Homo sapiens: one gene and its partner. The protein of the gene in region 1 purifies or fractionates together with the protein of each later gene. This does not show direct contact. Each region holds a gene or a part of one and is shown in the gene's direction. Other genes may lie near its edges.

Evidence for each region. Proteins that work in one complex are often made in the same cells at the same time.
Region 2: the proteins of FN3KRP (region 1) and LTF purify together in Homo sapiens (affinity purification with mass spectrometry; 3 studies listed by BioGRID and IntAct, with this or other methods). This does not show direct contact.

What each region holds. Positions count from the first base shown.
Region 1 is NC_000017.11:82,711,754-82,720,137, forward strand, and holds the start of FN3KRP (ketosamine-3-kinase), read left to right. Parts: upstream 1-4,952; 5' UTR 4,953-5,002; coding exon 5,003-5,143; intron 5,144-6,690; exon of another isoform or gene 6,691-6,818; intron 6,819-7,152; coding exon 7,153-7,304; intron 7,305-8,384.
Region 2 is NC_000003.12:46,440,432-46,448,276, reverse strand, and holds part of LTF (lactotransferrin isoform 1 preproprotein), read left to right. Parts: intron 1-878; coding exon 879-969; intron 970-1,783; coding exon 1,784-1,837; intron 1,838-2,840; coding exon 2,841-2,996; intron 2,997-4,694; coding exon 4,695-4,836; intron 4,837-6,793; coding exon 6,794-6,861; intron 6,862-7,845. UniProt on the Homo sapiens protein: Transferrins are iron binding transport proteins which can bind two Fe(3+) ions in association with the binding of an anion, usually bicarbonate. Lactoferricin binds to the bacterial surface and is crucial for the bactericidal functions.

The sequences.
Region 1 (8,384 bases):
GAAACCTCTGTGGCCAGTCGCACCTTTGCCCAAGTTTTTACTCAGGCCCACTGGGCTCATTCAGTGCACTTGGCCTGACAGGCTGTGCTCAGCTCATGCTACTGGTATGAATCTCACACCTGCCAGGCATGGAGTGGCGAGGGGTGTGTGAGGGAGAAATCGTGAGGTCTGGCCACTGCGCACAGCCAGGCACACCGGCTATGGTAGAGCGGGCCATTTCGGGTGCCACTGGGGGCGCTGGCTCCCTGCGAGGCTGCAGCTGGACCAGGTGCACCATGAGCAGGTTCCATGGCTGGCACGGGGGAATGCAGGGGCACCCAGAAACTTGGAGACGCCGGGAGCCGCAGAGCCTCAGAGACGGTGTCGCAGGCCTGGCTGGGGAGGTCTTAGGTCTGGGCTTCCCGAAGGGACACAGCTCTTCTCTCCCTCTCTCTTCTCTCCTTCTTGTCACTCACAACATTGTTAGCAAGGGACGTGTTTCAGCCCTGTTTGTGTGACAGCTCTTTTAGCCCTGCCATTTGGCAGGTCACGAGTTCTTGTCTTGCATCCAGGAAGAATGAGGTATGGGCACAAGTAGAGGGTGAGCAAGGCCAGCAGGAAATTTACTGAGCAACAGAACAGCTCAGAGGAGACTCGCAGTGGGTAGCTCCTCCCCGCAGGCAGGGCATCCCAGCTAGCGTTCAGCTCTCAGAAGAGAGGAGACCCTGGAATGGGTAGTTCCTCTCTGCAGCTGGCAGTCCCAATGTCTGCTCAGCTCTCAGCAGAGAGGGGAGCCTGGAGCAGGTAGCTCCTCTCTGCAGCTGGTAGTTCCAGCATCTGCTCAGCTCTCAGCGGAGGGGGGACCCTGGAGTGGGTAGCTCCTCTCTGCAGGCAGGTCATCCTGTCATCTCCTCAAATCTGGCTGAGTCTGGGGTTTTCATAGGCTTCAGAGGGGAGGAAGTGCATGCTGACTGGTTCATGGGCGGCCATGGGTGGGCCTGGACAAAGCACTATAAGTTCCCATTCTGGTCCCTCAGCCCAGCTCCCAGGCTTCAGGCCATCCCTGGCTTCAGGGTGGGCCTTCACTGTGGACCTGCCCCTTTCCACCCAAGAGCCTCTCTGCCTCCTGCCGTCATCTATGGCGTCCAGGCTGATTGTGCCAAGGAGCTGCCCTCAGCCCCTTCTCAGCCATGGTTGGGAAGCTGCACCTGCACCCAGGAGGATGGGGTTCCTGCCCACTCCCACCCCCAAGAGCAAAGGAATGCGCAGATCTGGAACCATGGCTGGGCAGCTGCCACTGAACCTGGGGAGCACAAGGCTCTCTCCCTGCTGGCTTGGAAGGTGGGTGGCTTCTGCCTGTTCCTGGCTCCCACCAGCTCCGTGGAGCACGCAGCCCCGGCGCCACCTCCCCACTGCTGCTGGTGTCATGACAGTGACTGCTCCAGACAGGCCGCCGCCATCTGTGCGTGTCACATATCTATGCAGAGACTGCTGCAGACAGGCCGCCGCCATCTGTGGGCGTCGCATGCCCATGCAGAGACTGCTCCAGACAGGCCGCCGCCATCTGTGGGCGTCGCATGCCCACGCAGTGACTGCTCCAGACGGGCCGCCGCCATCTGTGGGCGTCGCGTGCCCACGCAGAGACTGCTCCGGACTGGCCGCCGCCATCTGTGGGCGTCGCATGTCTATACAGAGACTGCTCCAGACTGGCCGCCGCCATCTGTGGGTGTCGCATGTCTATGTAGTGACTGCTCCAGACAGGCTGCTGCCGCCATCTGTGGGTGCCACATGCAGAGTGACCCAGGGGCTTGCCACAAGGGGGACAGTCAGGCAGGGACTCTGTGTGCACATGCATCCAAGCACAAGGCAGGTGTGGGCAGAGAAGCGAGTTGGAGCCATCCTCAGGAGGAGTGAATTACTGGGGATGTTGACCTTGGGACACCAGGAAGAGAATCTCATTTGCAGAGGAGGAAAACGCTGCTGGAACGGAAAGTCTGAGAAAGACAGCAAGAGCAGGACAGAGCAAAGCAGGACGCGGGAGTGAAGGCCTGCAGTGTGGGTGCGTGTGCAAGACCCAGAAACGCGCAGATGTGTGGGGCCAGCAACACCACGGCCACATCCTCAGCCACAGAACAACACACAACATCTCAAGGATGAACTCATCAACGCACCAACGGTTAGTCTCTTATCTAATAAATAAAGCATATCCCGGTTACAAATAATCAACACAGATGTTTCAATGATCTTGAGTAGAAAGTTGAGAGCTTGTCATTTGAGTCAGGAAATGGGACTCCGCGGAAATGATGGCCTTGAGAGAGCCCTCATGTGTTCTTTGTGCAGTCGGCAATTCCATGTAGACAGGAAAAATGGACTGAAAACTTAAACTGATATGATGAAGATAATATCATTCAATTGAAAATGAAAATGGAAAAAGTCATTTATAAACCATTTGAATGGACAAAAAAGAAAATTGGTTAGGAATTAAATTAGCTAGATGAAAGTCACTTTTTTTCTTTTTTGCTTTTTTTTTTGAGATGGAGTCTCACACTCTATTACCCAGGCTGGAGTGCAGTGGTGCGATCTCGGCTCACTGCAACCTCCGCCTCCCGGGTTCAAGCGATTCTCCCGCCTCAGCCTCCTGAGTAGCTGGGATTACAGGCGTGAGCCACAGTGCCTGGCCAAAAGTCACTCTTTTTTTTTTTTTTTTTTTTTTTGAGACGGAGTCTCGCTCTGTTGCCAGGCTGGAGTGCAATGGAGAGCAGTGGTGCGATCTCGGCTCACTGCAAGCTCCGCCTCCCGGGTTCACGCCATTCTCCTGCCTCAGCCTCCCGAGTAGCTGGGACTACAGGCGCCTGCCACCACGTGTGGCTAATTTTTTTGTGTGTGTGTGTTTTTAGTAGAAACAGGATTTCACCGAATAAGCCAAGACGGTCTCGATCTCCTGACCTTGTGACCCACCTGCCTCGGCCTCCCAAAGTGCTGGGATTTCAGGCGTGAGCCACCGCACCCGGCCCAAAAGTCACTCCTAAAAATGCTTTCTCGGCCGGGCACAGTGGCTCATGCCTGTAATCCCAGCACTTTGGGAGGCCAAGGCAGGCAGATCGCCTGAGGTCAGGAGTTTGAGACCAGCCTGGCCAACATGGCAAAACCCCATCTCCACAAAAACACAAAAATTAGCCAGTCATGGTGGTGTGCGCCTGTAATCCCAGCTACTCAGGAGGCTAAGGCAGGAGAATCGCTTGAACCTGGGAGGCAGAGGTTGCAGTGAGCTGAGATTGCACCACTGCACTCCCGCCTGGGCGACAGAGCAAGACTCCATCTCAAAAAAAAAAAAAAAAAAGTTTCTCAACAAAAACTTAACGGTGGCATAGTTCTGATGAAAATCTTCATGTTCATGGCATGGAGTTAAAATGTCCAAACGGTCAAGGCCACAGATTAAAACAGGGACATCCGCAGGCCCTGGCCCGAGGGGAGGAGCATACAGGGAGTGGTTCACCCACTCCACCGCCTTTGGAGCACCTTTTAATTCTCTCACTCTTCTCTAATGTGTTCCTTGATTTATCTATTACCATCTGCGGATTTTCATCTGTTCTTTTTTGCCTTTTTTTTTTTTGAGACGGAGTTTTGCTCTTGTCACCCAGGCTGGAGTGCAATGGCGGGATCTCAGCTCACTGCAACCTCCGCCTCCCGGGTTCAAGCGATTCTCCTGCCTCAGCCTCCCGAGTATCTGGGATTACAAGCGCCCGCCACCACGCCCCGCTAATCTTTTTTGCTTTTTAAAATTATGAAATGCGGTATACACACAGAAAAGTGCGTGAACACACACATATGTACCATTTAATAGATAGTTATAAAATGATCCGCCCGCCTCAGCCTCCCAAAGTGCTGGGATTACAGGCGTGAGCCACCGCTTCCGGCCTCAGGAGAGGATTCGTGTTTGCTTCTCCCAACGTCCAGGGAAGCGACATTTCCTATTTGCTTTAGACTAAAATCTATACTTGAATTTTTTGTTTACTGTAGGTAATATTAACTAGGGTTGCAGTCCGTGGAGGGCCGACTATGCGAACGGTTTCTATGAACCATCCTTTGCTGAAGGCTGAAACCTCTTCGTCCCCTGGGAGAGTTCCTATTCAGGCCTTCTTGTAGTTAGTTCATCCTTGTGTTGACAGCTGTATTAGGGTTCTCCAGAGAGACGGATCCAGTAGGATATAGACGTAGATCCAGGACAGGAGATGGACTGGGGGAGCTGGCGTTTGCAATTACGGAGGCCGAGAAGTCTGTGAGCCGGAGACCCCGGGACTCGGGTAGCCGGGCTCAGCCCAGGTCGGAAGGCCTCAGAAGCGGGGAAGCGGATGGTGTGGCCCTCAGCACGACCCACCCCAAATCATGCCTTGCCAGGTTTCTGGGAATTCCTGGTCCAGCCCAGCTGGCACCTGACACTGGCCGTAACGGCAGGGCCACTGTTAGCTGTTAGCCTCAGGGCCCCAGGTTTAGGGGCGGTGTCTCCGTTGCACGTGCACCCCGAGCGCGCCCGCCACTCCCCACATCAGGAGCTCTGTTCCTCGGGTTCAGCAAACGCCCGGGCGAAAGCAATCTTAACATTCTGGGCTCCCGGCACCCAGACCTTGGGCTGATGCCCCTTGCTAGTGGGTCAGCTCTTTAGAAAATATATTCTAACTATTTCCATCAGCATTTCCACTTATTTTGTGCAGGAGAGTTGAACCCAAACCGTCTGGGTCGGGGTCGGTCAGGCCCCGCCCCCTGACGTCATCTCACCCCCACCCAATCCCCCGCGCCTACCTGCCTCCCGGCCCCTCCCCTTCCCGCCCCTCAATCCCAGCGCTCATCTCTGCGGCCACGCCCGCCCCTTCCCGCCACCCAATCCTAGCGCTTGTCTCTGCGGCCGGGCCCCGCCCCCACCCGCCCCCCGCCCAATCCTCGCGCGGACTCATGTTTGCCCGCTCGGCCGCCGTCTCTCGAGTCTCCGCCAGATCCGGGGCGGGTCCGCGGCCGCGGCGGGAACATGGAGGAGCTCCTGAGGCGCGAGCTGGGCTGCAGCTCTGTCAGGGCCACGGGCCACTCGGGGGGCGGGTGCATCAGCCAGGGCCGGAGCTACGACACGGATCAAGGACGAGTGTTCGTGAAAGTGAACCCCAAGGCGGAGGTCAGGCAGCGGGTCGGGCGGGCCGGGGGACCGGTTTCTTTCCGGAGAGGGTCGCGGGCCTCGGCGCGGGGCGCGGCCTGGGCTTCTCCCGCCGGAGGCCGTGGGTGGCTCTCCCGGGACTGCCGCCGCCGCCCCTTGCGGGGAACCCTTTGCGCGGGGCGAGCGGTGAACGGGGGCGGCGGAAGCGTCCGGGGCGTCCGGAGGAGTTTGCACCTGCGGGGAACTGTCCGGAGCAGGAACCGCGGCCGCCCCACACCTCCTGTTCTCCGTGAACTTTCTCTCGGGGGCGCTACGTGAAATGGGGCGGGACTGGCTGCTGCAGTCTTGCTCCCGGGGTTCCTGCCCTGCGGTGCTGGTTAAGTGGGGTCGTTCTAGCCGGGGAAGCTGCTTAAGTCCTCAGCTTAAGTGACTCTGGAGGTGTCCATCCCCCGTGAGCCTCGGTCAGTACGTTGTGAAACGGGGCGAAGGTGCTGCCCCCAGGCCAGCTGCTGCGCCTCACCACACCCTGGCATGCTCTGTCCTTCTGTTAGACTCATTCTCGGGCCGGGCGCGGTGGCTCACGCCTGTAATCCCAGCACTTTGGGAGACAGAGGTGGGTGGAGCGCGAAGTCAGGAGTTCGAGACCAGCCTGGCCAACAAGGTGAAACCCCCGTCTCTATTAAAAATACAAAAATTAGCTGGGCGTGGTGGCGGGCGCCTGTAATCCCAGCTACTCGGGAGGCTGAGGCAGAAGAATCGCTTGAACCCAGGAGGCAGAGGTTGCAGTGAGTCGAGATCGCGCCACTGCACTCCAGCCTGCTGGGTGACTGAATGAGACTCCGTCTCAAAAAAAAAAGAGTGTTCCTAGCAGCGGTGACATGGCAGCTGTGGTGGGGCTCTGAGGCTGAGGAGGTGGGGACTCTGAAGAACTGAAAGAAGGATGAAGACAGCTGGAAGTCAGGAGCACGAGGAGAGTGTGTGTGTCTATGTGTATGTTGTGTGTGTGTACGTTGTATGTGTGTATGTTTGTAATGTTTGTATGTTGTGTGTATGTATTGTGTGTCTGTGTGTGTGTAAGGGTGGAGCCCCAGGTGAGGATGGGAGAGTGGGCAGGGCAGTGGTGTGTGTCTCAGGAGAAAAAGAAAGGCCGCTGGCCCTGACCTGTTCTGCGGGGATCACTGCTGTGTATGTTGTGTGTGTGTGTCTGTGTGTTGTGTGTGTATGGTGTGTCTGTAAGTCGTATGTTGTGTGTGTTGTGTGTCTGTATGTGTTGTGTGTGTGTTGTGTGTCTGTATATGTTGTGTGTGTGTGTTATGTGTCTGTGTGTGTAAGGGTGGAGCCCCAGATGAGGATGGGAGAGCAGGCAGGGCAGTGGTGTGTGTAGCAGGAGGAAAGGAAAGGCCGCTGGCTCTGACTTCTACTCTAGGGATCACTGCTGTGTGGTGAGCCAGGGGGACCCAAGGGAGGAGTTGCTGTGGTCCCGGGGAGTTGGATGGAAACGGCATCTCAAGATGAGGTGGTTTCCAGTGCTGGGCAGGAGGTGGCATGGAACTTGGTGGTCTCTTCAGGTGAAAAGTGACCCCAGGTCACTGGCATAGGCAGCCAGGGTGCCGCCTGCACCTGAGAGGTCGGGTGAGTCTGTGTCCTGTAGGTGGAACAGGACTGCAGTTGAGGTGTCGTCTGAGGACACTGACAGGTAACCCATGTTCACAGTCCCACTGTTGCCGGATCTTAGTGGAATATTAGTGCCTTCGATTTTCCTCTCTCCAGAGAACCTCCCAATTCAACCACAGCACACAAGTGTAGTCCAACACTGGAAAGCTCAAGCCCTCTTCTTCCAGTACAGCCTCTGAACCTGTAGCCTACCCTGTTGGCAAGTGTGTTTGAAAACACTGTCCATGTGTATGGAATCCTCAGTCAGGATAGTCTTGGTTTGAAGTTGTAATGCTAGAGGAAAACATATCTACAGAACCTTCCGGAAGTAACCTTGCCTCCCTGTATTTCCACTTCCTCTCGTATTTTTCTGACAGGCCAGAAGAATGTTTGAAGGTGAGATGGCAAGTTTAACTGCCATCCTGAAAACAAACACGGTGAAAGTGCCCAAGCCCATCAAGGTTCTGGATGCCCCAGGCGGCGGGAGCGTGCTGGTGATGGAGCACATGGACATGAGGCATCTGAGCAGGTGCATCTTCACACCACCCCCCACCTGGCTTTATTACCTGAGCAGGTGTGTCTTCACACCTTGTTTTATTATGTGTGTCTTCACACCACCCACTGGCTGGCTTTATTATCTGAGCAGGTGTGTGTTCACACCACCCCCCAGCTGGCTTCATGCCCCGCCCCGGCTGGCTTTGTTATCTGAGCATCTGAGCAGGTGCACCCTCACACCAGCCCCCAGCTGGCTTTCTTTTCCACCAAGTGGTTCTCTGATGACTGAAGCTTGTACTGGGGACATCATTTTGAGGAGTGTAATGCAAAGAACCCGTGACTCCACATACCATGAGTTCTGCAGAATGAACGGCAGGCACTCTCTGCAACCAAGGGCAGAAGCAAGAGGAATCTCCCAAAGTGAGATGCTGACCAAAGGCCTCGCTGCACGCCGGCCGCGGTGGCTCACGCCTGGAATCCCAACACTTCGGGAGGCTGAGGCGGGTGAATCACTTGAGGTCAGGAGTTTGAGACCAGCCTGGCCAATATGGTGAAACCCCATGTCTACCAAAAATCCAAAAATTAGCTGGATGTGGTGGCAGGCGCCTCTAATTCCAGCTACTCGGGAGGCTGAGGCAGGAGAATCACTTGAACGCAGGAGGCAGAGGTTGCAGTGAGCTGAGATCGCACCACTGCACTCTAGCCTGGGCAGTAGAGCGAGACTCAGTCTCAAAAAAGAGGAAAAAAAAACCACTGCAAACTTGGATGAGGCTGGGAAAGATCGTCAAATAATCAACACCTTTATCCCCCTCTTGCTTCACCAGAACCTACTTTCTGTCCTCAAAATGTCCGACCTACTAGCCGGCTGTGGTGGCTCACGCCTCTAATCCCGGCACTTTGGGAGGCCAAGGTGGGCGGATGACTTGAGGTCAGAGTTTGAGACCAGTCTGGCCAACACAGTGAAACCCTGCCTCTACTAAAAATACAAAAAAATTAGCCAGGCATGGTGGCGGGCACCAGTAATCCCAGCTACTCGGGAGGCTGAGGCAGGAGAATCGCTTGAACCTGGGAGGCGGAGCTTGCAGTGAGCCGAGATCGTGCCACTGCCCTCCAG
Region 2 (7,845 bases), on another chromosome or scaffold:
TCCCATCTCAGCTTCCCAAGTAGCTGGGGCTACAGGCATACGCCACCACACCTGCATAATTATTATTATTATTATTGTAGCGACAGGGTCTCGCTTTGTTGCCCAGGCTCGTCTCGAACTCCTGGGCTCAAGCAATCTTCCTGCTTCGGCCTCCCAAAGTGCTGGGATTACGGGTGTGAGCCACAGCACTCGGACGAAAACATTTTTTAAACATGCTTCCAGGATATCTTTTATGTGAATATGGCTCAGTTTAGTCATGCCCCCATTCCTCTTTGTCCCTTACTTTGCTATTATCAATAACCCTGTGGTGAGCATTCTTGAGTAGAAATCTTTGTCCACTTCTCTATTTTTAATATAGTTGTAAAAATATTACTGGGTCAAAGAGGAAGTTTCATACTACTGATGAGTCCATGATCCTGTGTTGTAGCCTGGACTTGTTCATTCTGGTGGTGGGCCAATATGACGACTTCAGCTTATGTGTTGGACAACTTCTGTGTAGCGCTTGGAGTGGAGTGCTAATGAGTTCAGATTAGATGAGGCCAGCTGTTCCCATCTGTGTCCTCAGTCAGTGAGACTGCTCCAGGAAGGTGTCCCCAAAGTGCCAGGGACACAGAAAAGGTTTTGCTCAGAGGACAGAGGATTAGTGCAACCTGTGCCTGGTCTTTCCAGTTGAATTGACAGCCCAGAAAGTAGGCAGGGCTGGGAGAGAATTAGTGGTGCACACGGTGTTTCCTCTGGCTGCTCAGTTTGAATAGTCCATCTCTTTCTGCTGTTTCACTGGTCACCTGACAGAAAACCATTCTCTCAGAGAGCTATATAGACAGGCAGGACGGGATGCAGCCTCACTGTGGTGCTGGAGATCTGCTCTGTCTTTGCAGAAAGGAGAAGCTGATGCCATGAGTTTGGATGGAGGATATGTGTACACTGCAGGCAAATGTGGTTTGGTGCCTGTCCTGGCAGAGAACTACAGTAAGTGGAGTTAGCATCCTCTGGTATATTCCCTCTGGGTCATGGGAGTGGGGCTATGAGTAATCCCATTCGGTGAATGCAGGTGAAACATTATGATGAACAGATACATTCAAAAGGGAGAATCAGGGAAAGAAGAAATGAAAGGGGCCGTGTTACCCACAAAGCCTATTGTGTTGAGAATTAACAAGGGACAGGTTGGTTTTATCTTCTTAATTTTCCAGAAGATCTCAGTGAATTATAACATACAAACAGAAAAGTGCACATAAATGTACAACTCATGGCACTTCACACACTGTACAGTCCATGCTCTCGGGCCCAGAACAAACACTGCAAGTTTCAGAAGCCCCTTATGTCCTCCTGTCCCCCGCCCCCTTACTCCTGCAAGGGAAGCCTCTCTCCTGGCTTCTAAGGTCGCAGATCTAAGTTTGCCTATGTTTTAAACTTCATGTTAAAGGAATTACACAGCATGTGTTTTTTTATGTCTGGTTTCTCTTGCTCATCGTTATGCTTTTCATCCACCTAAGTGTGTAGTTGTAGACTGTTCAGTCTCGTCGCTGTGTGAGTCTACTGTGATTATTCATCATTTGAGTGTGGATGGGCATTTGAGTAGTTTCCAGTTGGTGGCTGTGGTGAATAATGCAGCTGTGAATCTCTGTGCCATGTCTTTTGTTGAACATATAGACGCATTTCTCCTGCATGGAACTGCTGGGACGGTCTCTTTGGATTTGATTCTGCATCATTGAGATTTAAGAGTTTGTGGCTTCTCACTACATCTGAATGGATAATGATGTCTGGCTTGTCTTTATTCTTTCAGAATCCCAACAAAGCAGTGACCCTGATCCTAACTGTGTGGATAGACCTGTGGAAGGTGAGTTGGCATTAGCCACTTTCAGGGTCAAGGATAAGTTCTTGTTGCTGGAAGAGGAAGTGGCAGGAACTGTAAAAAAAACAGAAAGAATTGCAGCCCTAGAAGCTATAGGGCTTCTAGGAGCAATAATTTTAAGGGTGCAAATAATTCACAGAGGAATAGTTCTAATTAATGTTTATATTGACCTTCACACTTGGCAAAGAACATCCATATAGTCCCTCATTTTGTCATGGTCATGGAATGGGGGGTGCTACTTCCCCACCTCATGGGGATGAGGAAACAGTGGCACCGAGAGTCCCCAAGTGCCCAGGATCTCACTCACAGCCATAGGTAATACTGTGGTAGATCCTGGTCTTGACCCCGGGTCCTCGTGACCTGGGACTCGTGTCCCAGTGCTCTGTGCACCACTCCTCCTGCCCACCAGAGCTGGTGCTTGCTCAGTTTCAGAAAAGACTTGCCCTTGGTGGGTGTCTGTCAGATGCATTCTCTCAGGAGGACAACGGCAACCATGTTGAGTTCAACCAGTGCAGGGTGGGTTCAGACTCAGCTCAGGGCAGTCCCTGGGGACATGTGCCCCTGTACCCACACAGCCGTTAGCTGGCTGGATGTTGGTGCTCTTGCCTGATGCACACTGTGGTTGGTGATTTATGCACTGTTGGGGTCTCTCTTGTTGTTTATAGTGTTTGTTGCTGTAGAAGCTTACACTGAGAGATGCATTGCTGGTTTGTAACTCAGGGACATTGTGTGGCTGGTTGAAGACAGTCCCCTGTAATCACTAAAATAATCAGCTTTTCTTACTGTTTTATTTCATCAATCTCACCTTAACATAAGGCAGCAGCTTATGCTTTCTCGGTCTACCTAAAAAGGCCAGTTCTTTGAGGGAATCATTGCCTGGTGTTGCTTCTTGGCCTGTTTTGGCCTGGGCTGTAGACAGCTCCACTGGAATCCATGTGCCAGGCCTCCTGGAGGTTAAGACTTGTTTTTCTGTCATCTGTTATGCCAGGATATCTTGCTGTGGCGGTGGTTAGGAGATCAGACACTAGCCTTACCTGGAACTCTGTGAAAGGCAAGAAGTCCTGCCACACCGCCGTGGACAGGACTGCAGGCTGGAATATCCCCATGGGCCTGCTCTTCAACCAGACGGGCTCCTGCAAATTTGGTAAGGAGTTCCAAAGGTGCGGTGGGTGGGCCACCCTGGAGGGTAGGCATATTGTGCTGTGGAACCTTAGGGAAGGGAGGGGAGGGGATTTGCAGGCTGATAGTGGCCTGCAGGCCTCTTCCAGCATAAGGAAATTCTCCCTGTGGCTGCCCCCTGGAGGCGTGGGTGCACTGGGGGTTTCCCTGCACAGCACTTCCCATGCCCCATTCACCCCACCCCAAGATTAAAGATTGGAATATCTGCCTATTTCGCTGCACCCTAAGAATAAATGCAAGTTCCAAGATGTGCAAATGCTTTTTACCTCTTGGAGCTCCAGACCTAAATTCCTCTTAAACTCTGGCTTCCCAGCTTGGGGAAAGATGTCTGCCTGCCTCATGAAAGGTGACTCCTGTTACTAAGCAAAACTGACGCTTACTCTACACTGCAACGGAGCCTGAATAAGACCTCAAGAGCCTGGCTCCACCTGCTTCTGCAGTTTTCTCTCCCCACCACACCCCACACTCATCCTAGTCAGCATCAGCCACACCCTGCCTGCTGTGGGCCCCGTGGCATGGTGTGTAGCACATCCTCAATGTGACTCCCTTCTTGTATGGGCGTCTCCTAGGGCAGGGGCTCCACTGCATGGGTTTTTGATCCTGGCCGGGGCAGGCAGCTTTCACGTGGCTCTGCTCCTCACCAGCTCCATGGCAGCCTCTGAGCTGTAGGGAAACTGCCAGGATGGAATGGGAACTCCCAGCTTTTCCTGAGGTTGACACATAGTGTGGCTCTTCCAGCAGCAGTGGGAGTCTGATAATGGGTGACGTTTGCTCAGTGGGGCAGAGCTTTCTTGTCACCTTTGTTTATTCTTTCTTGGGTTAAATCACACAATGAACGAATTCAGATCAGGTTCAGCTGCAAGGAACAGAAAACTCCTGAAATAGTAGAGGCTTAAACAAGACAGAAGTTAATTTCTGTGTCATGTAGTCCAGAGGTGGTTTGCCTAGGGCTGGTATGAAGACAATATGGGGTCTGGAACCTGGGCTTTAATCATTTGGCTACTCTGCCATTTGTGTGGCTTTCATGCTCAAGGTCACCTCATGGCCCACATTGCATCTCTAAGTCCAGTCCCTGCTTCTGCATTCTATGTGCAGGATGAAGAAAGAGAAGGAGAAGAAAGGGCAAAAGGCATGTACCAATTGTCTTTCAAGGATGTTTCTGAGAAGCTGGCGCCCAACACTCCTGCTGATATTTCACTGGCCTATAGCTACCCATATGGCCATATGAGCCCCAGGGAGTCTGATAAGTCTAGTCTTTATACCAAAGGGCCAAGCACCCAGATACAAAGCAGGGTTTCCATTACTGATAAAAACAAAATCAGATCCTGGACTAGGCAACTCACAGGCTCTGCTGCACACAGCCATCACGGTCATGAGCTGAGTCCCCAGCTCAAGGCTGTGATGACGGGACCCTCCAGGCAGCCACAGCTCTCATCCCCAGCCTTAGTTGGGTGTCCATCTGTGCCTACAGTCTGAATGAAGCTTTTCTGGTGGGTCCTATGTTGGTGACAACATGTTGCTTTGTGATGGTGAGTGTGTTCTATCTAGATTGCTGTCCTGGGAAGTCTAATGAACTGAAACCACCCTGCATCGGCTGTTAGGTAAAGGTTGCTTGTGTGGACTCAGGTTTGAAGAGCTGACTCCCCGTGTTCCTTCTCTCCAGATGAATATTTCAGTCAAAGCTGTGCCCCTGGGTCTGACCCGAGATCTAATCTCTGTGCTCTGTGTATTGGCGACGAGCAGGGTGAGAATAAGTGCGTGCCCAACAGCAACGAGAGATACTACGGCTACACTGGGGCTTTCCGGTGAGTCTGTGACTGAGCTCCATCAGGATGGGGACTTACCTCATCCCTCAGCATGTCAGCATTGCAGTTCTAAGGAGCCAGATGTGACCTGTCACAGCAGAGTGGGGGTCATCCTGTGGGTCAGCTCATGGGTGGCCCCAGTGAGGGCTGTCCCCACCACACCCACCGCCCCAGAGAGTGGAGGCTGGCACCAGGGCTGTCTGACCTCAGCTCCGCAGTGCTTCTCCCTGTGGCTTTGAGCCAAGATCAACAGCAGTAGGCCTCAATAGCCTCGTCCTGAAAATCAAATGGGTAGAGTGTGGTATCCTAAGTGCTTCCTACAATTCCATTTATGGGGAAGAATTCTCTTTCCCATCGCCGCCCCTTTTCTTCTCACCTAGGTCATGACTATGGCTTAGGTTTCCCTTTTTCTCTGACTTTGGCCTTAGAAATGGCAAAGAGATGGCAGAATTGCAGTGTTATTCTCCAGTAACGAAGTGAAAAATAAGCCAAAAAACAAGTTTTCAGAATTCATAAGTTATAACCACTTAGTGACTTGTAACCACACCCCACGTTTTACAGCACCATTCATCCGGGTGTTGCTTCTCAGGGGCACTATTTACCAGTGTGAAGGGTGCAGAGAGGATCTTCCCCTGTTCCTTTTCCTCCATTTGCCAAGAGTACATTTCACGACCAGATGGCGTCATGTGTCTGAGGGTGTCTGAACTTTTTAATATAAATTCAACAGCCTTGTTCCAGTAATGGAATGACAGAAAAGTAGCTTTTGCTATATAAGTGGCTCATAAAAAAAGACCCAAAACAAAAAAAAATGTTTTGTGAATGTATAAAAATATCTTTAAGGGACTAAGGATTTGCAAATGGAAATGTGATTCTACTCAGAAATGCTGAACACATGTCTCATAAGAGCCCGAAAGAAGCATGTGCTCCTCTTTTTTTTTTTTTCAGACCTGCAGCAAGGTATTAGTTCACTGGAAACACCCACATTTTAATATTCCTAATTATACTGGAAGAAAATCCCTTGTCTTTTGTTTAAATTATATCTAGAATCTAGATTGGGGAAATTTATAGCAAAATCATTAAAAGCTGAAACCAGTGTCATACCCCTTTATTTCTATCATCCTTATAATGCTGGTTCTTAATTTTTAACTTTCTGCTGACTCTGTAGTATAGAAGAAGATCTAGCCTCTCACACTGCCCCCAGCACCTTTTCCACCACACAACCACAGACTTCAACTCTCTTCAGCACCCAACACGCTAATGTCATATTCAGTACTTATGACTGTGTAAGCGTTATTCTCATATTATATTTCCCTTATTGTACAAACTTTTTGTTTACTCTGGAGTTCATAAATGTCTTTTCTTATTTGCTTAATTTTCTGCACTTAAAAAAACACATCACTATCTCATCCCCAAACTGTCTGCCAGTAATGTAAATCTCCTAACAACATGCATACACACACACACACACACACACACACACACACACACACACACACACACACACACTCTCTCTCTCTCTCTCTCTCTCTCTCTCTCTCTCTGGGTGCTATCACAGTTTCATCATTTACTTGGAAGTGCTGCTCCAGAAGGCATCCATCTTCCTGCTGCAGTTTGGACTGGTTGCTGTGTAGGCCGCCTGCACATCTGTGGTCCTGGGGGTCCTGTTGACCATTATTTTGGTGCTTTCCTTTGTCTTACTTCATGTTAGATTGCCTGTTTCCTGGGTCGCATATCTTTAGATTTCTTGGTTTTGTAATGTCTTTTATATAGGGTTTTAAAAGGAGGGCAGGTACACCTGTGTTCAATCTGCCGCTGTAAACAGTAAATTCCTAGAAATAGTTGTCTTTTAGATGTTTACTTCCATATTTCAGTTTTTGGAATGCATATTACAAATATTTATGAAAGCCCCACTAGTTTCTCTTCTGTAATTATGTGTATATTTTCTGGAACATTTTAGGTGCCTGGCTGAGAATGCTGGAGACGTTGCATTTGTGAAAGATGTCACTGTCTTGCAGAACACTGATGGTAGGTGAAGGTGTTTCCTTTTCTCCTTCAAAGCAGAGTCTTTGGCATCACAACACATCTTAGTGTTCAGATTTGCCTTTGGGAAGGTTTTATAACATTTTCCATATTTGTGATTAAAAGAACTCCAAAATTCTTTATCTCAATAGACAACATGATAACATCTGTAGGTGTCATATGGATTTTGAAACGAAATTCATACACACACACTCTCTCTCTTTCTCTCACACACACACACACACTCACTCTCACACACACAGATACTAGCCATGCTCAGTAGCAAATGTCTCCCTGGCTTCCTCTAGTCAACCACAGAAACACACTGTCTGCCCACATGAGATCATGCATGCCTATTGGAAACTGTGGATGATGCTACAAACTGGGTGAACATATGCAAATGAAGCCTCCCTTTATGAAAAAGGAAGTAGAGGCCTTCATTCATCCCCATGTGAGCCTTGGTCTGGAGACTCCTTGGGAGTTAGTGGGAACAAAATTACAGGTGGTTGCAGATGATGGAAGATAATCTTCCAGCCAATGTTTGAACAATCACTCTCTCTCCTGGTCCTCAGCCATTTGCTACCTTCCAATCTGCATCTGTCTCCTTAGCCCCACTTCAGCATTCCAACCCCCAAGTCTCAGCAGGTGACTTGCTATTCTGTTTCCTGAGAAAGAACTGTCTCCACTTTCGGCCTCCCTCCTTCAGTAATCACTGCAGTCTCAGCCACTTCTCCCTTCTGCTTCTGCTCCTTCTAGTGTCTCTTGGGACAGAGATTAAAACAAGACATGTAAATTTGAAATTATTTCAATATCAAATAGAGGAATCCAAGAGAATGAATAAAGTGCTTTCTTAAAGGGAGAGAGCAGAGAGACAAACGGGAGCCGGAACAATGAGCCGGCATCTGCACAAACATAGACATGCATACAATTACATTTAGAATTTACAAGCCATTAACTGAAGTAATCTCCAGGGATCAGATTGATGTCAAA